Homo sapiens: one gene and its partners. The protein of the gene in region 3 purifies or fractionates together with the protein of the main gene of each other region. This does not show direct contact. Each region holds a gene or a part of one and is shown on either strand. Other genes may lie near its edges. The genes, in order: REXO4, ZNF317, PPAN and MRPS35.

The links.
Region 1: the proteins of PPAN (region 3) and REXO4 purify together in Homo sapiens (affinity purification with mass spectrometry, with the first as the bait; 3 studies listed by BioGRID). This does not show direct contact.
Region 2: the proteins of PPAN (region 3) and ZNF317 purify together in Homo sapiens (affinity purification with mass spectrometry, with the first as the bait; 2 studies listed by BioGRID). This does not show direct contact.
Region 4: the proteins of PPAN (region 3) and MRPS35 purify together in Homo sapiens (affinity purification with mass spectrometry, with the first as the bait; 2 studies listed by BioGRID). This does not show direct contact.

The regions. Positions count from the first base shown.
Region 1 is NC_000009.12:133,407,974-133,415,010, forward strand, and holds part of REXO4 (RNA exonuclease 4), read right to left. Parts: coding exon 6,692-7,037; intron 6,672-6,691; exon of another isoform or gene 6,364-6,671; intron 4,949-6,363; coding exon 4,805-4,948; intron 4,520-4,804; coding exon 4,326-4,519; intron 3,101-4,325; coding exon 3,012-3,100; intron 870-3,011; coding exon 795-869; intron 1-794.
Region 2 is NC_000019.10:9,135,980-9,143,420, reverse strand, and holds the start of ZNF317 (zinc finger protein 317), read right to left. Parts: upstream 3,025-7,441; 5' UTR 2,829-3,024; intron 1-2,828. UniProt on the Homo sapiens protein: May function as a transcription factor. May play an important role in erythroid maturation and lymphoid proliferation.
Region 3 is NC_000019.10:10,109,347-10,112,534, forward strand, and holds the end of PPAN (suppressor of SWI4 1 homolog), read left to right. Parts: intron 1-284; coding exon 285-361; intron 362-402; exon of another isoform or gene 403-494; intron 495-566; coding exon 567-674; intron 675-776; coding exon 777-900; intron 901-977; coding exon 978-1,056; intron 1,057-1,138; coding exon 1,139-1,268; intron 1,269-1,350; coding exon 1,351-1,520; intron 1,521-1,598; coding exon 1,599-1,819; 3' UTR 1,820-2,375; coding exon of another isoform or gene 2,376-2,394; 3' UTR 2,395-2,666; downstream 2,667-3,188. Other genes in the region: PPAN-P2RY11 protein, read left to right, coding at 285-361, 567-674, 777-900, 978-1,056, 1,139-1,268, 1,351-1,520, 1,599-1,676; P2RY11 (P2Y purinoceptor 11), read left to right, coding at 2,376-2,394. UniProt on the Homo sapiens protein: May have a role in cell growth.
Region 4 is NC_000012.12:27,720,823-27,727,859, forward strand, and holds part of MRPS35 (small ribosomal subunit protein mS35 isoform 1 precursor), read left to right. Parts: intron 1-3,224; coding exon 3,225-3,364; intron 3,365-4,754; coding exon of another isoform or gene 4,755-4,763; exon of another isoform or gene 4,764-7,037.

The DNA of each region.
Region 1 (7,037 bases), on a different chromosome or scaffold from region 3:
CACCCAAGCGACCTACAGTTTGCCTCTCAGTGGAGAGGTGCTCATGGCACTTAGGGTGGTAGCCACCAGCTGCCATTTATAGCATGATGGGCTGGTGATACACCCCTATCAGCCAATAAAAGGAGAGGGCCAGGGGAGGAGTCAGCATCCCCATCTCCCATCTTGAGGCCTCCCTGCTTATTTCAAGAGGGACAGCTCTGGCCAGGCATGGTGGTTCACACCTGTAATCTCAGCACTTAGGAGGCCAACGAGGGCAGATCACTTGAACCCAGGAGTTTGAGAATAGCCAGGGCAACACAGCAAGACCCTATCTCTAAAAAAATAAAAATAAAAAAATTAGCCAGGGGTGGTGGCATATGCCTGCAGTCCCAGCTACTTCAGAGGCTAAGGTGGAAGGATTGCCTGAGCCTGGGAGGTGGCAGTTACAGTGAGCCAAGATTATGCCATTGCACTCCAGCCTGGGTGACAGAGCAAGACCCTGTCTAAAAAAAAAAAAAAGGATGAAGAACGGCTCTGCCCTTGGCACCCTCTAGAGCAGATACGACAGTGGTACCAGGCCCTTAGTCAGTGACCCTGTTTCAGAGGTTAGAGTGGAAATAACTTGCCCTCCGTTGCAATCATTTTTAAGGTCAGCAATTAGCAGAACTCTATTTTTAAACATTCCTTCTAGTTTTAAAGGTTAAAAGAAAAAACAAAAACCCTTTAACCAACAAGTCAGCCACCAGTGACCAGAAACAATGAAGTGACCAGCAAAACAGAAATACAGTATCTTGAGTCACACTCATTCTAAGTACCTTTACTTGACTCTTGAAAGGTTTATATTTCTGTGTGTCCCGAATCTTCTTTTTTGGATGATCAAGAAATAGTACCTAGAAAAATAAAATATAATGATAATCATTTTCATTTTTGGTTTGTAGTAGCAGAACCCCCTCCCCCCGCCACCTTTTGCAAGTAACATCTTTGTGTGTGTGTGTGTGTGTGTGTGTGTGTGTGTGTGTGTGTGTGTGTGTGTGACGGAGTCTTGCTCTGTCACCCAGGCTGGAATGCAGTGGCTCAATCTTTGCTGACTGCAACCTCCGACCCCAGGTTTCAAGTGATTCTCCTGCCTCAGCCTCCCGAGTAGCTGGGATTACAAGTGCCCGCCACCATGCCTGGCTAATTTTTGTATTTTTTAGTAGAGACAGGGTTTTGCCATGTTGGCCAGGCTGGTCTCGAACTCCTGACCTCAGGTGATCCACCCGCCTCGGCCTCCCAAAGTGCTGGGATTACAGGTGTGAGCCAACGCGGCTGCCCTGCAAGTAACATCTTGTAGGGAATCCAAGTGTGTCACACACACATGGAAACAAGGCACTGATATGAATTTCAACTCCAGAAGGAAATTTATTGCACTGACTTAAGCTGATGCCCAACAGTCAGAGACAATAAAAACAAAATCTTGAAATCAAGGAAGTAGGAGAAAAACAGTCAACAGTTAACCAGCAACCAACTTATTCCTATATTATACTTGTATTTTGAGTTGGTTCTACACATCAGGAAGTTGCAAATAACACATTTTAACAGCTCATCTTGCAATCTTAGCATGCAATTTTTTGTTTTGTTTTGTTTTTTGATAGGATCTCACTCTGTCACCTGGGCTGCAGTGCTATAGGGTAATCATGGCTCACTGCAGCCTTAACCTCCTGGGCTCAACTGATCCTCCTACCCCAGTCTCCTGAGTAGCTGGGACAACAGGCACACGCCACCACACCTGGCTAATTTTAAAATTTTTTATAGAGATGGGGTCTCCCCTATGTTACTCAGGCTGGTCTCTAACTCCCGGCCTCAAGCAATCCTCCAGCCTCAGCCTCCCAAAAAGCTGCGATTACAGGCATAAGCCACTGTGTCTGGTCCTTAGCATCATCTTCAAGAAAGACTTGAACATGTGCTGCGCAAGGTGCCAGGGATGGAGTCAGAGTCAGGAGGGAAGGACGAGTCCCCACGGCAGCAGTCTCTGAGGGGGTACAGCAGGAGCACACAGAAGACCTTTCTGTGAGGACACTGCCCGGGGGGTTCTCACCTCAGTTTCACCCTCTGTAAACAAGCATGAACACCTCCAGCATCTTCAATGGATTCAAGGGATCTCTACAGTGCCGTCACGGGAGCACCATAGCAAAGGCTGCTGCCTGAACATTAGCATCTCTGTCACTTCCTTCTGAACGGCTTCAAGTTCCTCACCACACCCAAGTGCTTCAAGCCGGTGGGCAGAGGTGACAACTTAAGTGTCTCTCCCATCTAGCAGACTGGCCTCCCCGCTGTTCCCACTGTGTCCTTTAAACCAACATCCAGGCATTTGCCCATAAACTCAAAGTGACCCCCACCCTGTTCTCCTGTAAATACACACGTACTCGCTCTGCCTGACTCTTCATTCCTGCCTCGGGTGACCAGGAGATGGCAGGCTGCCCTCCCCACCCATGACGCCTTCCCTGCCCAGGGTCTGTATATGTCTTTGAACTTGTTTCCCACGGTGGTGGTGTCTGAATTTGCACTTTCCATCTGAAGAACCAGGGGCTGCCCCAGGCGGGATTTTCCTCGGGACGCCAGAAAGAAGGCAAAGGCAAGCTCCCAGGGCCAGGGTGATGGTTAGGCAAGCGTAACCTGAACATGGGCCACAGGGCATCTGCCAGGATAAACTTGTTTCCTGTGGAGGGACCCTGGTCACGGATGGGACAACTGGACATTAGGCCTTCCTCCAGGTAAAAGGGGTATCAGCACCTTCATTTCTCATTAGGGCGGGGTTGCCAGCTGCTCTGGTATGGGTACCCCAGTTTCGCTGGGGGCTCTCAAAACAAGAGCCTGGCATGGCTCCTAAAACACAGTAAGAACTCAGCACGCGGTATCTGATATTATTACCAAAGTATTCCCAACATAGAGCACAAACCCACACATTGTTAAAACTCCCCAACACAGCAAGGGCGTGAGTGTAACACCCACGGAGCAGGGGCAGGCTGAGTCCCCAGGAGAGAGCCCAGTACCTTTAGGTCATTATGCAGAGCGTGCCCCACTAGAATTCTGCCCTTCAGCATCTCTGCCACTTCCTTCTGAACAACTTCAAGCTCTTCTCCTGGAAAATCAACACAAAGAAGCGGTTTTTTGCAACACACACATCACCATCATTCTGTGAGGAGGCAGCCCCGCTCCTACCCCTGGTCAGACCTAAGACAAATGGTCAGGCCTGCAATGCCACTACGGAGGGTGACTCGAAGCCACCACATCCACCCACCCCCCTGGGAGAAGTGCCTTGTGGGCCCCTGGCAGGGGTGGCTGCGAGAACCACCTCTGAGGAGAGGAATAAAGTGCTCCACACAGTCTGCAAAGTCGGCTCATGGCTGGAGGAGAGCATATGTTGAGTGTAGGCACTGAGAAACTTTTAGAGCCGCCTGGCAGCGTGGTTCTGCCTATTCAACCTCATGATTTACTTGACAATTTCCCAAATGGAAATAAAAACAAAACTGCCCCCACAAAAATGGGTAGAGATGTGTTGCCCTAGGCCCTGGGCTCCAGAGGCAGCCTTGCCTGCTTCTGGGGACCACCCCACCACCAACCCCACTTGTACCCCCCGAACAGGGGTGATTAGACCAAGGGTGGCCCGAGCCAAGTGGGACCAGCTAATTTTTTAAAAATATTTTTTAGAAGGCCAGGTGCAGTGGGTCATGCCTGTAATTCCAGCACTTTGGGAGGCGGAGGCAGGCGGATCACCTGAGTTCGGGAGTTCAAGACCAGCCTGACCAATGTGGAGAAACCCTGTCTCTACTTAAAATACAAAATTAGTCGGGTGTGGTGGCATATGCCTGTAATCCCAGCTACTCGGGAGGCTGAGGCAGGAGAATCGCTTGAACCCAGGAGGCGGAGGTTGCAGTGAGCCCAGATTGTGCCATTGCACTTCAGCCTGGGCAACAAGAGCAAAACTCCATCTCAAAAAAAAATAATAATTTTTTTTAGAAATGAGGTCTCGCTATGTTGTCCAGGCTGGACTTGAACTCCTGGGTTCAAGCAATCCTCCCTCCTCAGCCTCCTGAGTAGCTGGGACTACAGGCATGAGCCACCGTGCCCAGCTACTGGCCTGGTCTTGAAGTCAGCGGACAGGAGGCAATGAAGTGCAAGGCATAAATGGGTGTAAAGCCGTCTAAGGATGCCTTTTGTATTTTAAAACCCATCGCCCCAAAAGGAGACAAGACGCATCAAAACCAGCTGCAGTGAGTGGTCTCAGACAGAAAAGGGAACAAAAGGGAGAAAACGAATCCAGTTACTACTTTCCCTTCTAAGTTCCTGAGCTGTGGATGACATACCCTGCTTGAGGTTCTCAGGCCGAATCCCACTGACCGCTGTCCTATAGTCCGTCACGGGCTCGGTTGGTTTGACGTACTTGTCATAAACGCACTTCCCATACTGGTTCACGATGGACACACGGGCGGCCATGCTCTCCTCCCCCTTAGGGCCCACGCCCACCATCTCACAGTCCAAGGCTAAGGCTCTTGTCAGGCTGAAGGGTAACCAAAGGCTGTAGTTTAATAAACACGGCAGGCCACAGGGCTCCAGGTCAGAGCCCCAGGGATCCATGGACTAAGTGTCAGCAGAGAAAAGCTCTCTGCCCCTCACTCATTTGCACCCACGTGACAAGCTCTGTGTGGTCCTGGTTCTTAGCAGGACCCTGGGAGGTGCTTGCCTCATTCACCTCAGGGAGAGGAAAGCATCCTCTTCCTTGAAGAAGCCCCGCCCTCCACGGCTAAGCATCCCCAGCAGACCCCACTCCCTGAGACCAGCGTACCCGCCGAAGGCCTGCTCTTTCACGAGGCTGAGGCTGACGCTGCCCTCGCTCTGACCCAACTGTTTCCTCGCTATCTTGGCCGCCTCTGGACCTATGGCAGCTTCGATATCCGCTGGGTCCACGTCGTCAAACCAGATGTCTTCCCTAAAAGGCAAAGATAACAGGCTGATCACCAGAAGACCCTAGTGCAACTGGTGGGGTGGGGCTGTGGGGCTGACTGTGCAGGTGAGTGGAGCGATGGCACAGCCTGCCTCTCCCACAGGCTGGCCCCAGACACCCCGACTGCTGGCCCTGCTGCTTCTGCTATTTTGATCATCTTGGCATTTTCCTTTTTTTTTTGAGATGGAGTCTCACTGGGTCACCCAACCTGGAGTGCAGTGGCATGATCTTGGCTCACTGCAACCTTTGCCTCCCAGGTTCAAGTGATTCTCTTGTCTCAGCCTCCCTAGTAGCTGGGATTTTACAGGCGCCCACTGCCACGCCTGGCTAATTTTTTGTATTTTCAGTAGATACGGGGTTTCGTCATGTTGGCCAGGCTGGTCTTGAACTCCTGACCTCAAGTGATCCACCTGCCTCGGCCTCCCAAAGAGCTGGGATTACAGGTGTGAGTCACAGCACCTGGCCTCATCTCTTTTCTTTTTAATTAGAAAATACACTCATTATTCAAGATTTAGGAACACAGACAAACACAAAGAATATAAAACAGAAACACATAACCCACCACCCAAGTGTAATGAGTGCTAACATTTTAATTATGAAGGTAACACGTTCATTATTGAACACTTAGGAAACAGACAGACAGAATGCCTGTAAGATGGAAACACAGAACCCCTTGCCCTCCGTACTAGGAAGCTCACACAGGCACGTAACACCTGCCTGGGGAATCTGTCTCTTGGGCTAAGGTTAAATGTCATTTCCTTAGAAAAGCCATTCCTGGCCCCACTGAATGGACACGTCCCTCTTGTTCCAGGCGCCCAATACCTTCTCCTCACTAGATTTATCCTGACCACACTTAATCAACAGCTGCAGTTTACAGTCTGTCTACTGCACTTGACAATAAGCCTCAAGAGGGAGGAGCAGGCCCACCTCACTGAACTCTATCCCAGACAGCCTGCCTAGCACAACACAGGGAGGCCCCCAAATGGCTCATTCCTCAGCCATCAGCGACTGTGTCCTGAACACCCAGGCAACATGAAGCCAGCTGTAACTTATGAACACGTCACCTCCAGCTGAACCATTCAGAGAAGGCCACTGACTCCCGGTCCACCCCACGTGGGTGGCCAGCACAGGGTTTATTCTTTTCACTTGTTTTTTTGAGAGTCTTGCTCCGTCACCCAGGCTGGAGGCAGTAGTGCAATCACAGCTCACTGCAGCCTCAACCTCCTGGGATCAAGTGATCCTCCCACCTTGGCCTCCCAAGGAGCTGGGATCACAGGCAACAGCCACCACACCTGGCTCCATCACAGGGTTGAAGTAATCACCAGGCACTGAGCCAAGAGTGCCAACCTCACAATCTCCTTATGATGCCACCATGACTACCACAAGGCACAGAGGACGTCAGAAACTTGCCCCAAACCACCCAACTGGCGAGAAGCAGGGACAGGCCTCATACTTGGGTCTTTCTGGCTTCAGCACGCTTTCCTTCCACACACGTGTACTGGCACCCACTAAATGCTGAGCTCTGCTCAACGCTCGGAAGAAGCAGGCCCTGCCTTATCATGCGCACACTCTAGGGGAAAACAAGTAACAGCGAGTAAACAAAGGAACAGACGACATCAGGGTAAAGTGATGGAGAGACTGCGGTGAGGCCACCAGCCTCCATAAGGAGACAGGCCTTGGTGAAGTCGCTGTGCCTCGGTTCTCAGTGGTGAGGTGGCCCATACTTACTCGGTGGGTGGGGCTGGGGCTGCCTCCTTAGCTTTCCGCTTCTTATGCTCGATGTCCCCTCGTTCTGGAACAATATCACCATTTGTCCTTTCCTTGGTTCCTTTCTTATTGTGCTCTGTTCCACTGGCCTTGGTGCGAGGTACTGGCGCCCTCCTGTCCATCTTGGAACCTGAAGGAACAGAGCCCCTGCTGGCCTCCTGGTCTTTTCCTGCCGGCATCTCCTCTCCCTTCACTTGAGGCGAGGTCTCTTTTTTGTTTTGCTGGATAATTTTGGGCTTCTTTTTGGAACCCATCTGAGAGATGACAAGAGGCTTTTCTGGGGCCTGAGATTTTTGTTTCAGCAGCC
Region 2 (7,441 bases), 970 kb from region 3:
ATTCAACATAAGAAACTGGAAAGAAACATCCCAAAAAGGAAGAAAATGATAACAATCAGAAAGTTATAAAATAGAAAACATATATATCATAAAGTGGTTCAATCAAGCCAGAAGTTCTTTAAGAAGAAAACTGACAACATTCTGATGGAATTTATTTTTGTAAAAAGCAACATATAATTATTATAAATAAAAAAGTGGATAACATTACAAATGCAGCAAGCATTAAAAATTTGAGTATGTTATGAACAACCCTGACTATACGATTTAAACCTCAGATGGAATAAATAAATTCCTAAAGAAATTTTACTCATCATAACAACACAGAAAACCTGAATGCCCCACAAACCTTAAAAGAACAGAAACAATAGCTTTAAAACTTTCCACAAAGAAAACTCCAGACCCAAATGGTTTTTCCAGGTACCACTCCCGTTCTAAGGAACAAAATATTCTATTCTTATGCAAAACATTCCAGAGTTTAGAAAACAGAACACTTCTCATCCCATTTTATGAGGCTGGCATAAATCTGAAACAGAAAAGGAACATTTCACTCAAGCATAGATCCAAAAACACCAAACAAAGTATTAGCAAACCGAAGCCAAAAGTAACAAATAGTAACATGTCCTTTCCAAATTATTTACCAATACAAATTCAATGTAACAAGAGAAAATCAATTGGTTTAATTTGCCACACTACAGGATAGAAAAAAAATTATATTATTCACTCATTAATTTGTTACACAGCAGTACTGAGTGCCATAATTTAAGGTACTAGAAATGTATCAATAAACAGATACAAAACTATCAATATAGATTTTGTATCAAACAGATACAAAATGTATCAATAAACAGATACATAATGGCAAAAAAAAAAAAAAAATCACTTGTTAAAAGCCTGCAGCAATTCACAAGAAAAACTCAAGTAGGAAAAGAGGGGAGCTTCCTTGACCTAATAAAAACTATTCGACAGAAAAGCCTTCGGCAGACACAAATGACAATTCCCTTTAAGATCAGAAAACAAACAGGCTTGCCTAGAGTGTGCCATCCAAACTCCAGTCAATGACAAGGGAAGTCCCCACCCAGTCCAGCACAAAAAACAAACAAACAAACAAACAAACAAAAAAGACAATTTATCGTCTGTATAAAATAAATATTTGTATTTTCCTTTTGAATTGTACACATTTTCCTTGTCTACGAAGAACATCCAACAAACTACACAAAAGTTAGACTTTTCTGAGCACCAAAAAACAAAGTTCCCAAGAATAAATATAACAAAAACAACCTAAATCCTTTTTGCAGGTACTTATAAAACTTTACTGAGCCGGACATCGTGGCTCTCTCCTGCAATCCCAGCACTTTGGGAGGCCAAGGCCGGTGGATCACCTGAGGTCAGGAGATCGAGACCAGCCTGGCCAACATGTTGAAACCCCATCTCCACTAAAAATACAAAATTTAGCTGGGTGTGGTGGTGGGTGCCTGTATTCCCAGCTACTCGGGAGGCTGAGGCAGGAGAACCGCTTGAACCAGGGAGACAGAGGTTGCAGTGAGCCGAGATTGTCATTGCACTCCAGTCTGGGCTACAAGGGTGAGACTCCATCTCAAAAAGGAAAAAACAACAACAACAACAAAAAACACTTTATTGAAAGGCATTAAAGAAGATGTAAATAAATGATGTAAATCAATTAACTGCAACTCAATGGCATAAAAACGACAATATTCCCAAAGTTCAAATATAGATTCACCACAACTTGAAAACAAAAGTCCAGTATGTGGAATTTGGTGAACTGACTAGAATTTAAGCCATGACATTCCTGAAAAAGAATGGCTAGGTGTAAGTACTTCATCTACAAGATATTTAGAAATCTCTAAATTACAAAGGTGTGCTTGAATCAATACAGAAAAAGATTGTTTCCAAAAATACTGAAGCGCCTGAGTTCATTCACAAATAATTACCAAAATTTAGGAAATATATTTTCTGGAAAAGATGTATACGCAGTCAAATCCACGGAGACAGTATTGGTGGGAGAGGAGGATGCAGTTTAGAAGAGGCACACAGCTTTCTGAGATTTAATAATCTCTTTCTTGGCCTGGTTTGTAAATTCGCTTTACTGTTGTCCTTTTAAGTGTGTGTAAGTCTGCGTGTGTGTGTAATCATACTTTTTTTGCATGTATGTCCTATTTTCCAGTGTTAAAATATGTGCATAGGAAAGGACACACCACAAAATAAGACGGTAAAATTCAATGGAAAATATTAATAATCACGATAAGTATAACTGGACTAACTCAAGTTAATTAACAAAATGTTGAACTGAATAGTAAATATACATATAGGCTATTTACAAGAGTCCACTAAAATTAAAATAAATAAAAAAGTGCAACCAGAAGGTCTTAAATTAAAAATATAAAAGGTACTCAAGGTAAGTGCTAATAAGAACACCAATGTGCTGACATTCACGAGATAAAATTGACTACAGCGCAGAAAGAAGGTGATTTCTCCTCGCGATGTCCAAATCCTGACGCCCCCCAATCTCCTGAACTGCCCCCAAACTCTTGAATTCACTTCAGCCGGGCTTTTCCGCCCCCACCAGAGACTTAGGGCTTTTCAGGATCAGGTGACCAATGCTTCTCTCATCACTAGCTGCAATGGTCCAATTTTATCCTTCGCGTCCCCAGCTTTTCATATCGCTGATCGCGAGATCTAAACGCACCCCTCGTCTGGATGCCTAGCTCTTTAGCCCCCGACCCTCGTACCCTCTTAGTCCTCACCGCCAGATAGGCCTCCCGTGACCCCTGGAACTGAGGGGGAGAAGGGTTAAGGAAAGCAGGGCTTACACGACTGGGAATAGGATCGGGGGAGCGGAGGTGACGGAAGCCGCCGCCGATGCGAAGAGAAGTTCATACGGGAGGTCCAGTCTGGCGTGGGGACACGAGGGGTCCCCAACAGGCCGAAAGAATTCGCCGCTGACCCCTCCTTGGCCCATGTGTCTCGGGGCAATCGACTCCAGAGAGTAATGGCTTCCGCTTCACTGCCGCCTTCCAATTCTCGCGGGACTTCATTGGCGGCGTCTAATACGGAAGCGGGGCGGAGAGGATGCTGGGAATTGTAGTTTTGAAGTTTGGATTGGCATGGCGGCCGTGCCCCGGTGGAATCTGACGGTCCAGCATATTTCTCCAATTTCTACTCAAGACTCAAATTTTCAACCACAACCCACAGCATTTTGTAGCCATCGTAGTGGTAAAGGTTGAATCAGGCAAGAATTGTCATCTACATGACACAACTGGGGGACATTTGCATGACGAGCAGAATATTTGAATTGCCTTAAATGCCTCTCTATAAACTGCTCGTATGTTGGAATGGAGAAAAAGTAATAGAAATTGTACAGCGAAGAAATTGGACAACATCTGGACCAGGTGATCAAATCAATATCACCAGTGAGGGTCAGATGGAGACCACGTGCCTCTGAATGACACCTTGGGAAGGGCGTAAAATCACCATCACCTGTGTGGTGTTCATCCTGCATATCTGCTATTTTGTATTTTTTGACCCACATCTTCCCATTTTCTTCCCCAACTGCCTCATTCTTTATTTCTGTGTATTTGAGCTGTCTCTCTTGATTAAAAAAAGTTCCTCATGTAAGTGACGTCATGCAATATTTTTCTTTTTGTGTCTGGCTTATTTCACTTAGCGTAATGTCCTCCAGGTCCACCCATCTTGTGATAAATGTCAGGACCTCCTTCTATTTCAAGGTTGAATAATATTCCGTTATATATATTATATGTTTTATACAATGGAATATATATTATATCATATTTATTATAATTATGTATTATGTGTATTATTACCGTATATTATATAATATATGCTAAAATAATATATGTATGTATGTTATATATATTATGGAATATATATTATATATAATATATATTATTTTAGCAGGAGGAGTCTGCATATACAAAATTCCAGAATCAGGCTGGGTACAGTGGCTCACACCTGTAATCTCAACACTTTAGGAAACCAAGGCTTCCCATGTAACCAGTAGGGGCAGAATTATATAGGCAGGAGAGACAGATGGTTAGTATTATCCAGGGCAGGTATTATAAAAGACAGAGAGAAGGAAATTTGAGGTTTTGGAAAATATATTATTGAGGGGATGGACCATGGTGCGTATATATATATATACACACACATATAAAATGTATGTATGGAATATATATGGATATAAGATATTCATATATAATATATAATCTATATTACATAACGTAATATATATTTCATAATACATAATATATACACCATAATATATAGCATATATACATATAATAATACATATAATATATAATATGTATTTCATATAGTATATTATATACATATATTACATATAATATATTACATGATATATAACATAATGGGAATATCTATTATGTAATAGGTATATATTTATATACAACATATTATATTAATATTTAATATAATATGAAATATATATCAATATTATATGATATTAATGTTGACATCATATATAAATACAAAAGAGATAGAATATTATTCAGACTACATAGCTGCTATTTTGTATTTCGTATTCATGTGAGCATCAATGGACATTCAGGTTGTTTCCGTAACTTGGATATTGTAAATAATGCTACAATGAAAATGAAAGTGCAGACATCGTTATGAGGTGATTATTTCATCTCTTTTAGGCATATATTCAAAAGAGGAATTGCTGGGTCATATAGTAGTTCTGTTGTAGATTTCTTTAAGAGCCTGAATACTGTTTTCCACAAAGGTTGTACCAGTCTGCATTCCCACCAACAATGTACTAGGGTTCACTTTGCTTGATGCCCTCGCCAACATTCATCTCTCATCTTTTTTTTCCTTTTTTTTTTTCTTTTTGCAATGGAGTTTCGTTCTTGTTTCCCAGGCTGGGGGGCAATGGTGAGATCTCAGCTACCGCAACCTCCGCCTCCCGGGATCAAGCGATTCTCCTGCCTCGGCCTCCCGAGTAGCTGGGCTTACAGGCATGCACCACCACGCCCAACTAATTTTGTCTTTTTAGTAGAGACGGGCTTTCTCCATGTTGGTCAGGCTGGTCTCGAACTCCCGACCTCAGGTGATCCGCCCGCCACGGCTTCCCAAAGTGCTGGGATTACCGGCTTGAACCACCGCGCCCGGCCTCTCCTATCTTTTTGATGATAGTTCTCCTTAAGGATGTGAGGTGATATCTCACAGTGGTTTTAATTTGCATTTCCCTGATGATTAGTGATGTAGAGCACCTTCTCATATACCTGCTGGCCTTTTTTATGCCTTCTTTGGAAAAACGTCTGTTCAGACCCTTTGCCCATTTTAAAATCAGGTTATTTGTTTTTCTGCTATTGATTTATAAGAGTTCTTTATAAATTTTGGATATTAACCCCTTATCAGATATGTGGTTTGCAAATATTTTTTCCCAGTCCGTGGATCGCCGATTCATTCTGTTGATTGTTTCCTTTGCTATGTAGAAGCTTTTTAATTTGATGTAGTCCCATTTGTCTACTAATTTTTGCTTTTGTAGTCTGATCTTTTGGTGTAATATCAAAAAAATATATATATATATATTTGGTCTTTTATCCATTTTGAGTTGATTTTTGTGTATGGCGTAAGATAAGGGTCAAATTTCCTTCTTTTGCATGTGGAAATCTAGTTTTCCTGGCAGCATTTACGGAAGAGGCTATCCTTTTCCCATTTTGTCCTCTTGGTGCCCTTATTGAAAATTAGTTCATCATATATGTTTGGATTTATTCCCAGGCTCTCTGTTCTGTTCCTTTAGTTTCTATTTTTATGCCAGTATCATGCCTTTTTTTTTTTTTTTTTTCTTGAGACAAGTCTTGCTCTGTCACCCAGGCTGCAGTGCACGGCTCACTGCAGCCTCGATCTCCCGGGCTCAAGTGATCCTCCTGCCTCAGCCCCCCAAGTATCTGGGACTACAGGTGCATGCCACAGCGCCTGTCTAATTTTTGTATTTTTCATAGAGACAGGGTTTCCCTATGTTTGCCCAGGCTGGTCTTGAACTCCTGGGCTCAAACAATCCACCTGCCTCATCCTCCCAAAATGCTGGGATTGCAAGCGTGAGCCACCACGCTGGGTCCCTTTTTTTTTGAGACTTAGTTTCACTTTTGTCGCCCAGGCTGGAGTGCAATGGTGCGATCTCGGCTCACTGCAACCTCCGCCTCCCGGCTTCAAACAATTCTCCTGCCTCAGCCTCCCGAGTAGCTGGGATTACAGGTATGAAGCCTGTAATTAGCCATCATGGCTGGCTAATTTTGTATTTTTAGTAGAGACAGGATTTCACCATGTTGGTCAGGCTGGTCTCGAACTCCTGACCTCAAGTGATCCACCCGCCTTGGCCTCCCAAAGTGTTGGGATTACAGGCGTGAGCCACGGCGCCAGGCACGTTTTTTTTTCTTTTTTTATTATTATACTTTAAGTTTTAGGGTACATGTGCACATTGTGCAGGTTAGTTACATACGTATACATGTGCCATGCTGGTGTGCTGCACCCACTAACTTGTCATCTAGCATTAGATATATCTCCCAATGCTATCCCTCCCCCCTCCCCCCACCCTACAACAGTCCCCAGAGTGTGATGTCCTTCCTGTGTCCATGTGATCTCATTGTTCAATTCCCACCTATGAGTGAGGCACGTTTTGATTCTTAACAAGGACAATTGTGCCACCTGTGGAGACGCCTTTGGTTTTACCACTACCCGGGATACTACTGACATCTAGTGGTTAGAGTATAGAATGCCCTACTCCCTCTAACAGAAATACCAGGTCCTGAATGTCAGTCGTGCCAATGATGAGAAACCCTTGCATAGAAAAGTAGGAGATGGCCGAGCGCGGTGGCTCACGCCTGTAATCCCAGCACTTTGGCCGGGGCGGGTGGACCATGAGGTCAGGAGTTCGAGATCAGCCTGGCCAACATGGTGAAACCCCGTCTCTACTAAAAATACAAAAATTAGCCGGGCGTGGTGGTGCGTGCCTGTAGTCCCAGCTACTCAGGAGGCTGAGGCCGGAGAATCTCTTGGACCCAAGAGGTAGAGGTTGCAGTGAGCGGAGATCGTGCCACTGCACTCCAGCCTGGGTGACAGAGACTCTGTATCAAAGAAAAAAAAAAAAAAAAGCAGGAGATACTGGCTGTAGATAAGAAGGCAGACATCTCATTGCTTGCAGAGTGAAAGAAGAAAGAACTGGTGATGTTGTTACTGGACTACTTTCGCACTAGTGTCAAGAAGGTGAGAAATCTCTCGAATCTAGGATAAGAGAAAAAATAAAGAAGGTGAGAAATCTTTCTCATGGTCGTTACTATTTCTCTCTGCAGTAAGTTGTAAAATCATTTGTTATTAAACAGGGAAGTTGTGGCCGGGCGCAGTGGCTCATGCCTGTAATCCCAGCACTTTGGGAGGCCAAGGC
Region 3 (3,188 bases):
GTAGCTGAGACTACAGGCGTGCACCACCACATCCAACTCATTTTTCCATCTACTTTTTGTAGACATGGAGACTCGCCGTGTTGCCCAGGCTGGTTTTGAACTCCTGGGCTCAGGCAGTCCCACCACTTCAGCCTCTGGAGTAGCTAAAACTGCAGGTGCGAGCTGGAAGCAGCATTTCTAGCCAGTGCCACAGTCCACGAACAGTGTGTGTATCCCCCAAAGCCCCCACTTCCCCAAACTTTGCCATGAGTCTACTGGACTATGCTCTCTTCCTCCCCTTCCAGGTGAACCTGAACACCATCAAGCGCTGCCTCCTCATCGACTACAACCCCGACTCCCAGGAGCTGGACTTCCGCCACTAGTGAGTGTCCCAGCAGGATGGGAGACGAGGGGGTGCCGGGTGGGGGCCTCCACATGCGGCTGATGACAGCACTTCTGCTGAGACGCTGTGATTGCTCTGTCCAAAGTAAACGCCCTGACGCACTGTGGGAAGGGTGAGATGGGCACCGCCAGCCCCATCACGTGCCCCCTGACCACCCCCTTGCCGTCCACTCATGTTCCTGCAGTAGCATCAAAGTTGTTCCTGTGGGCGCGAGTCGCGGGATGAAGAAGCTGCTCCAGGAGAAGTTCCCCAACATGAGCCGCCTGCAGGACATCAGCGAGCTGCTGGCCACGTGAGGAGGGCATAGGGCGGGAGGCCACTGCGGCCCGGGGACCCCAGAACAGGACCGGGAGCCTGAGCTCCCCCACTGAGCCCTGTTATGTCCTACACACAGGGGCGCGGGGCTGTCGGAGAGCGAGGCAGAGCCTGACGGCGACCACAACATCACAGAGCTGCCTCAGGCTGTCGCTGGCCGTGGCAACATGCGGGCCCAGCAGAGTGCAGTGCGGCTCACCGAGGTGAGGCCCAGGGCAGGGGGACCCCCGGGCTCCACCAGTCCCAACGGTGGGCTGACGCTTCTTCCTCGTCCCCTCAGATCGGCCCGCGGATGACACTGCAGCTCATCAAGGTCCAGGAGGGCGTCGGGGAGGGCAAAGTGATGTTCCACAGTTTTGGTGAGGCCGGGGCCGCCGGGGGTGGGGGGTCATGGGTGTGGAGCTGCACCCGGATCTTGGTGACCCGCGTCTCTTGGCTCAGTGAGCAAGACGGAGGAGGAGCTGCAGGCCATCCTGGAAGCCAAGGAGAAGAAGCTGCGGCTGAAGGCGCAGAGGCAGGCCCAGCAGGCCCAGAATGTGCAGCGCAAGCAGGAGCAGCGGGAGGCCCACAGGTCCAGGCAGAGCTGGGAAGGGCAGGGCCAAGGGGGGGTCCCTGGGATGGGCGGCTATGTTGACCCCCACGCCCTCCTCCAGAAAGAAGAGCCTGGAGGGCATGAAGAAGGCACGGGTCGGGGGTAGTGATGAAGAGGCCTCTGGGATCCCTTCAAGGACGGCGAGCCTGGAGTTGGGTGAGGACGATGATGAACAGGAAGATGATGACATCGAGTATTTCTGCCAGGCGGTGGGCGAGGCGCCCAGTGAGGGTATGGAGTGGGGTCTGCAGCAGGGCACCCAGAGCCTGTCCTTGTCTCTGGGGGCCCTGACACTGTCTCTCCCCACAGACCTGTTCCCCGAGGCCAAGCAGAAACGGCTTGCCAAGTCTCCAGGGCGGAAGCGGAAGCGGTGGGAAATGGATCGAGGCAGGGGTCGCCTTTGTGACCAGAAGTTTCCCAAGACCAAGGACAAGTCCCAGGGAGCCCAGGCCAGGCGGGGGCCCAGAGGGGCTTCCCGGGATGGTGGGCGAGGCCGGGGCCGGGGCCGCCCAGGGAAGAGAGTGGCCTGAGCCCAAGCCGCACCGGAGCAGCGGCTGGATTGAACGCCCCAGATTGGGGCCCGAGATGTGGCCCTCGGTTTCCTTTCATAAAGGAGTTGTGTCCCCAGCCCTTCCACTCCAGTAAAGAACTGAATTGGCCAGGGGTCCACGTCAGCGTTTGGGATGGGGGATTCTGGAGCCATACAAAGCAACCCAGAGAGTCCTGGGCCGGCCACACCCGAGAGTCCCTCCCACCTGGTTTCTTCCTGGAAGCTGGGTCTCTCCCCTACCCTGCACGGGGTTGGTTTCATTGGTGGCAGCAGCAGCCATGAGTGGCCCCTCCCCCCAGTCCCACCAAAGAGCCGTGCAAGCAGACAGGTCACACTTTCAGCAGATGAGCTTGAACCTCAGGAGGGTTGTGGCACAATGAGGAAGGAAACGTGGGTGGAAAGGCACGCTGGCCTGCTCTGCTGGCTGGGCCAGTAACTGGGGATGGGGCTGGGGCAGGGCCCACTAAGCCACTGGTGACTGGGGGAGGGGCTGGGGAACTGGGTAGCAGACACAGGCTGAGGATCGGCACGGGAGCATGGCAGCCAACGTCTCGGGTAAGGAGAAGGCATGTTGGCTGTCTCTGGGGGTCTGCAGATTGTCAGGAGGTGGGGGTAGTGGGTATTGGTAAAACACCTAGGTCTGGGGCTGGGCACGGTGGCTCACGCCTGTAATCCCAGCACTTTGGGAGGTCGAGGGGGGTGGAACACGAGGTCAGGGGTTCGAGACCACCCTGACCAACAAGGAGAAACCCCGTCTCTACTAAAAATAAAAAAATTAGCTGGGCCTGGTGGCACATGCCTGTAATCCCAGCTACTCGGGAGGCTGAGACAAGAGAATCACTTAAACCCGGGAGGCGGAGGTTGCCATGAGCCGAGATTGCACCATTGCACTCCAGCTTGGGCAATGAGCGAAACTCCATCTCAAAAAAAAAAAGCCTAGGTCAAGGCTGGGTGTGGTGATGCGAGCCTGTGATTCCAGCTACTCGGGAGGCTGAGGCAGGGGGATCACTTGACCCCAGGAGGTCGAGACTGCACTGAGCTGTGATTGCACCACTGCACCTCAGCCTCGGTGACAGTGAAATCCTGTCTCCAAAAAAAAGCCACGTCTAGACGACACTTCCTCCTTAAGCAGGCTGGCGTTGGGAGCAGGGAGGCGCCTCCGGAGAAGCCTGTCCCCAGCCTGCAGAGGCAGGGGTGGGGTGCACAAGGAGTGAGTGCCCCTGTGCTGCTGTGCCCTGGGCACTGTGGTGAGCACTGGCACCAGTAATGGGTAAGCAGGCCCCCCCATCCTCCCGAAGGAGGGAGATTTTTCTCACCGTCATCAGGTGGCGCAGGGTATGGGGGAAAAT
Region 4 (7,037 bases), on a different chromosome or scaffold from region 3:
TCCTTCTTTCTACATGCATGGAGGTAAAGGCAAATAACATTTTTTAACTCATGGTTCTGTGTATGCTTTTATAATTATGTATATATTCCAATTTAAGTTCTGATTGATAGTTATGATTGATTAGATTTATTTAGGAGTTGGTACCTTTGGATAAAGTCTTAATATACTCATGCTGATTTAAAGGTGTTGTATATTACATGCTCAGTATACTTACTAAGGCTTTTCAGGAAAGAATATGAAACCTAGAAACACTTCACAAGTATCCTGATTATGTTGGGAAGGAGATGTGGAATAGTAAACATAATTATGATTAAATTTGAGCTTTTGAAAGGGCCTTCCGTTTAAAAATGTAAGGAAGACTATATAAAGAGGTCCTAAAACATAGGAATAATAACCTTACTCTTGAAATGAGGGAGGAAAAATCTGTTGCCTCTTAATAGGTCTTCTACTTTAGGACATTGGGATGCTTTTCTATCCCTTTAGAGTGTGTGTTTCTCTATGCATTTGTGCCTGGAATTAGATTAAAACTGATCACTTCCAAATTTGTGTCCCAGGCTGGGCATGGTGCCTCACACCTGTAATGCTCGCACTTTGGGAGTCTGAGGTGGGTGGATTGCTTGAGCTCAGGAGTTCAAGACCAGCCTGAGCAATGTGGTGAAACCCCATCTCTACAAAAAACACAAAAAATTAGCCGGGTGTGGTGGCATGTGCCTGTAGTCCCGGCTACTCGGGGGCCTGAGGCAGGAGGATTGGAACCCAGGAGATTGAGGCGGCAGTGAGCTCAGATCACGCCATTGCACTCCAGCCGGGGTAACAAAGTGAGATCCTGTCTCAAACAATAAAAAAAAATAAAATAAAATAACAAGTTTTTGTCCCGTTTGCCACAAATCATGTATTAGTATTTGATCATCTGTAAAGACAGTTAACAAATGGCATTGCACTGTGAAAAATTCCATGTTTCTTCTTTTTAAATGTGACAGGGCGTGGTAGCTCATGCTTTTAATTCCACAGTACAGCACTTTGAGAGGCCAAGGAAAAAGGATTGCTTGATCCCAGGAGTTTGAGACCATCCTGAGCAACATAGTGAGATCATGTCTCTACAAAAATATTAAAAAATTAGCTGGGGTGTGATGGCGCATGCCTGTGGTCCCAGCTACTCTGTAGGCTGAGGTGGACGACAGAGTGAGACCCTGTCGCAAAAAAACATAAAAATAAAAAAGTTTAAAAAAATTAAATGAAAGGCTTTTATACAGCACATTCGGAAGAGTGGCATTATATTTTATAGTATTTAAATGAGTGTCTTAATCTTTCCTTAATTATCCCTTTACACTTGCTGCTGGCCTCCGGATTCAGATTGCGTCTTCCGTATAACTCAAAGGCTTTTCAAGTACTTCTTCTCAGTTTTCTTTCAAAGTAGGTCAGTTCAGATTTTATATCTAACTTGCAAATGGAAAATCTGAAGCATGGGAAAGTTAGGTAATTTACCAAAACTTTAATAATCAGTGGCAGAAGTTAAATACAAACTAAGGTCTTCCAAAGTCTCATCTATTGCTCTACCTATCAGATGAGTAAAGGCTAATAGGAGTCTATTATGTGTTTTCCATTTGGCTGTCTTTTTTTAGACATATAATTTAGGTAATTTAATTTTAAAACTGTAATTATCATTTGATGATTGAAATGACTTATTCACATTTTTTTTTTTAAGTAAAAGAAAAAAGAGTCAGTGCAAACCCAAGAGCTCACAAAATTCCCCAAACTAGTCTCTCTTATAAAGTGCTTGGAAGTGATGCATCTTATAGTGCAGGATATTGGAGTAAGTTCATGATGGGAATGAAATTCAGCCTCAACAATCTTGCTCTGTTCATATTTTTTCAATGTTACAATGATGTTAATTGCAAAGATACTTCTTTCCCCTCAAAACGACCGGGTATTGATTTTTTAAACAGTGTTCAAGGAATGGAGTGAACTATGTTTAATTTGTTAACATGTTTAGTCCCAGATATCAGAGAGTCTTTGTAATCCAGAGTGACATTTTGCAGACTCTGATTTTAAAGCCTAAATGAGAGCAAAATATTGTTCCTATTATAAGAAAATCGTTAGCCCAAGGAAATGTTATTGGCAAAATAGTTCTCACTGCCCCTTAGACTGTCACCTAGAAGAGCTCCCACATCTGCCTGTGATTATGACCAGCCTTTTCTGCAGTTGTGCTTTTTTGGAGGAAGCATGGATCTGTGCAGTCTAATATGTTTGACCCAAGAAACCAGTTACTTTTAGCTGTTCTTAGAGTGAGGCTGTTTAAGAAATGAGATTTCCATTGTGGACAGCCTTATAGTGCCAGAAGTTTTCATCTCAAGCTGAAAGTTCTCTGCCATGCTAACTTGATTGAAACAGGACAAGATGAAATCAGCTCTGATACCTGGGGGAAGCTGGGAGCTACCTCTTTTCCTTTAAGTTTTTTTTTTTTTCCCATTAGGGGCCTGAGTTTATGCTTCTGTGTTATGAAGATAGAGAGGCATGTTCACAGTGCTTGGAGCTCCTGTTGTGGCCTAGGTCTCAGACCCAATCCCACTTCCTCTCTATGCTCTCTTGCCCAAATATGAGGACAAGGCTTTCTTCTTTCCATTTAACCCCATTGGCACATAGAAGTCACATAGAAAAAATATCAGTTCTTATAAGAATCCATTTAAGGGCTTAGGCATTTGTACCTGTTTGAGTTGAGGTTCTATTCAGCCAAATTTCTAGACGACTGTTGACTCCATCTCAGTTTCTTCTTAGGGCTTTTTGAGAGCTTTCAATTCCTTTCAGCTGATCTTTAGTAACCTTTAGTAATTAATACTATCTGTTACTTTTTTGAAAACAGTAATGCTGTGGGCACTATGAACTGTTTGCTTTTAGTTGGTACAGAGGAAGTAAACTGTCCAGTAACAGATATGTGCAAAGCTTATAATAAGCTTCCATCAAGGCACAGTTCCCTTTTAACTGAAAATACCATTACCACCAAACCTGAAATATCCAAAGAATTCCCTAATTAAATTGCCTAATTTAGGATGTACCTGATAGGAAAAGGGATAAGGGATGATGCTATATATGTAAAGTGCAGAAGAGAATCTGTTCTTTCATGTAACTTGGTGATGCTCTCAGTAATTTGGTATTGTCTAGTAGTATGCATTACAATGAGAATTTACTTGCAAAAGTGTAATTGAAATTATTTCTTTTATTCTCAGATTTTTGCACTGAGTGGCCAGCCGCACTGGACAGTGACGAGAAATGTGAGAAGCATTTTCCAATTGAAATTGACAGCACTGATTATGTTTCATCAGGACCATCTGTTCGGAACCCCAGAGCACGAGTAGTAGTCTTAAGAGTAAGAGTTTTTTTCATTTTTTTTTTTTAAATAAGAATCATTCTAATACATTATTTAAAGATGTCTTTGGTGGCTGGCACAGTGGCTCATGCCTGTAATCCCAGCACTTTGGGAGGCCAAGGTGGGAGAATTGCTTGAGCCCAGGAATTTGACGCCAGCCTGGGCAACATAGCAAGAACCTATCTCTAAAAATAAAGAAAGAAATTGATATGTGTGATTATAAAACTGTAATATTTTTCACAGAAATTTTGGAAAATACAAGTTTCAAATTATACACCAGGCATGGTGGCTCCTGCCTGTAATCCCAGCACTTTGGGAGGCCGAGTCAGGCGGATCACCTGAGGTCAGGAGTTCAAGACCAGCCTGGCCAACATGGTGAAACCCCGTCTCTACTAAAAATACAAAAATTAGCTGGGCGTGGTGGTGGGCACCTGTAATCCCATCTACTCCGGAGGCTGAGGCAGGAGAATTGCTTGAACCCGGGAGGCAGAGGTTGCAGTGAGCTGAGATCGCTCCACTGCACTCCAACCTGGGTGACAGAGCGAGATTCCATCTCGGAAAAAAAAAAAATTACAAAATTGCCCGTAAATCTACTATTTGTAACCACTGTTAACTATAGTAGCTCATTTTAGTATATAGTCACAGCCTGCCTTTGTGTATATTAATGGGATGATACTGTATGTGTTCAGCAGTCTCTTAACAAGAATTAAACATTTCCCAATAATATTAAACATTCTTTAATTTAATTTGAATTTTTTTGAGATGAGATCTGACAGGCAGAGAGTAGTGGCACTAACATAGCTCAATGTGGCCTCCAATTTCTGGGTTCAATTGATTGTCCTGCCTCAGCCTCCAAAGTGGCTGGGACTACAGGTGTGAGACACTGCCCAGCCCATTTTCTTAAATTTTTTGTAGATACAGGATCTCACTTTGTTGCCCAGCTTTTCTTGAACTCCTGGCTCAAGTGATCTTCCCACTTCCGCCTCCCAAAGCACTGGAATTACAGGTGTGAGCCACTGCACCCAATCTAATTTAATTTTAATGGCTGCATAGAATAACGTATAAATGAGAGATTGTTATGTACCAAGACAGTGTTTGAATCTGGGGGTGTAATGTTGATCACTTCAAACTTAGCCTTTTTTCTGAGACTGAAGTGTGATATATAAATAATTTCATAATACAGGGCTACCATAATTTATCTGTATTATGGAACCTTTAGGCTTTTTAATGGTTTTCTTTATTAGAAAAATATTTTAATGAATATTCTTAGGTATTAATATTTGTATGTATTTCTAATGATGTTCCTAAGATAACTTCCTGAAAGGAGAACTATGAGGTCAAAGGATATAGCTCTTGAAGTTTGTTGATATATATTATAAAATTCCTGCAGGAAATGTAAAAAAATATAATCCCAGCAGAATGTGAGAAGGCCTGCTTTCCTGTGCTCTCACCAACCTACATATTACCTGTCAACTTGATAGGTAAAAAATTTGTCTTATATTTAAAATTTGTATGTCTTTGAATACTAGTGAGGTTGAGGATTTATTCCTTTGCAAAACATGTATTTTTTGTCATTTGCTCATTTTGGTGGTGTATTGATTCCTTGTATACCTTTTTTTTTTTTTTTTTTTTTTTTTGAGACAGGGTCTTACCCTGTCACCCAGGCTGAAGTGCAGTGGCGCGATCTTGGCTCACTGCAGTCTCTTCCATCCGGGCTCAAGTGATTCTCCCATCTCAGCCTCCTGAGCAGTAGCTGGAACTGCAGGAGTGTGCCACCATGCCTGGCCAATTTTTTTGAATTTTTGTAGAGACAGGGTTTTGCCATGATGCCCAGGCTGGTCTCAAATTCCTGGACTCAGGCGATCTGCCTGCCTTGGGCTCCCAAAGTGCTGGGATTACAGATGTGAGCCACCACTACAGGGCCGTTGTTTCTTTTTAATAATGGCTTTATTGAGACATAGTTCACTTGCTATAGAATTCCCCCCTTAACCATCCTCAAGCCCCTTTTAGCCACTAATCTACTTTTTGTCTCTGGATTTACCTATTCTTGATGTGTTACAGAAATGGAACCATGCAATATGTTTTCTTTCACTTAGTGTAATGTTTTCAATAGGTTTCATCTGTTGTAGCATGTATTATTTTATCATTTCTTTTTATTGCCAAATATTTTATTTTATGAATATACCACATTTTATTTATCCATTCATTAATTGGTGGACATTTGGGTTGTGTCTACTTTTTGGATGAATAATGCTGTTGAACATTCACATACAGGTTTTTGTGTAGATATGTGTTTTCCATTCTCTTGGGTATATACCTAGCAGTGGAATGACTGAGTTGCATGGCACCTCCATATTTAACATTTTGAGGAACTGCCAAACTGTTTTTGAAAAACAATTTCAAAGTGGCTTCACTATTTTACAATTTCACCAGCAAGTTTGAGGCTTTCTATTTCTCCACATCCTCACTAATGGTTATTACCTGTCCTTTAGTTTTAGCCATTCTGATAGGTATGAAAGTATCATTGTAGTTTTGATTTGTGTCTCCCTAATAACCATCTTTTCATGTGCTTGTTGACTATTTGTATATGTTTGGAGAAATGTCTGTTCATATCCTTTGCCTGTTTTTTAATTGGGTTGTTTATCTTTCGATTGTTGAGTTATAAGTGTATTTTATATATTCTGGACACCAGTCCCAGTCCCTTCTCAGATATATGATTTGTAAACATTTTCTTCCATTCTTTGGGTTGTCCTCTTACTTTCTTGATGATGTCCTTTTTTTTTTTTTTTTTTGAGACGGAGTCTCACTCTGTCACCCAGGCTGGAGTGCAGTGGCTCGATCTCAGCTCACTGCAAGCTCCGCCTCCTGGGTTCACAGCATTCTCCTGCCTCAGCCTCCCGAGTAGCTAGAACTACAGGCACCCGCCACCACGCCTGGCTAATTTTTTGTATTTTTAGTAGAGATGGGGTTTTCACCGTGTTAGCCAGGATGGTCTCGATCTCCTGACCTTGTGATCTGCCTGCCTCAGCCTCCCAAAATGCTGGGATTAGAGGCGTGAGCCTTTTAAGCACAGAAGTTTTAATTTTGATGAAGTCCAATTTATGTAAGTCATGTGCTGCATAATGATGTTGTGGTCAGTGATAAACACATACACAACAGTGGTCCCAAGAGATTATAATACTGTATTTTCACTGCACTTTTTCTATGTTTAGATATGTTTAAATACACAAGTACAATTTTGTTACAGTTGTTACAGTATTTAACAGTAACATGCTACACAGGTTTGTAGCCAAGGAGCAATTGACTATACCATGTAGTCTAGGTGTGTAGTAGGCTGTACCACCTAGGATTGTGTAAATACATAATGATGTTTGTACATGACAAAATCACCTAGCCATGTCTTTGTCAAAAAATATTGTTAAGTGGCGTATGACAGTATTTTTCCTTTTGTTTCTTGTGCTTTTGGTGTCATATGTAAGAAATCATTGTCTTATTCAAGGTCATAAAAGATTCACTCTTGTGTTTCCTCCTAAAAGTTTTATAGTTTTAGCTCTTACATTTAGATCTATGACCTATTGTTTGTTAATTATCATACAGTTGTTCCTCAGTATCTGTTTGGGATTGGTTCCAGGAACGCTTGTAAATTCATAGATCTGTGGATGCCTAAGTCCCT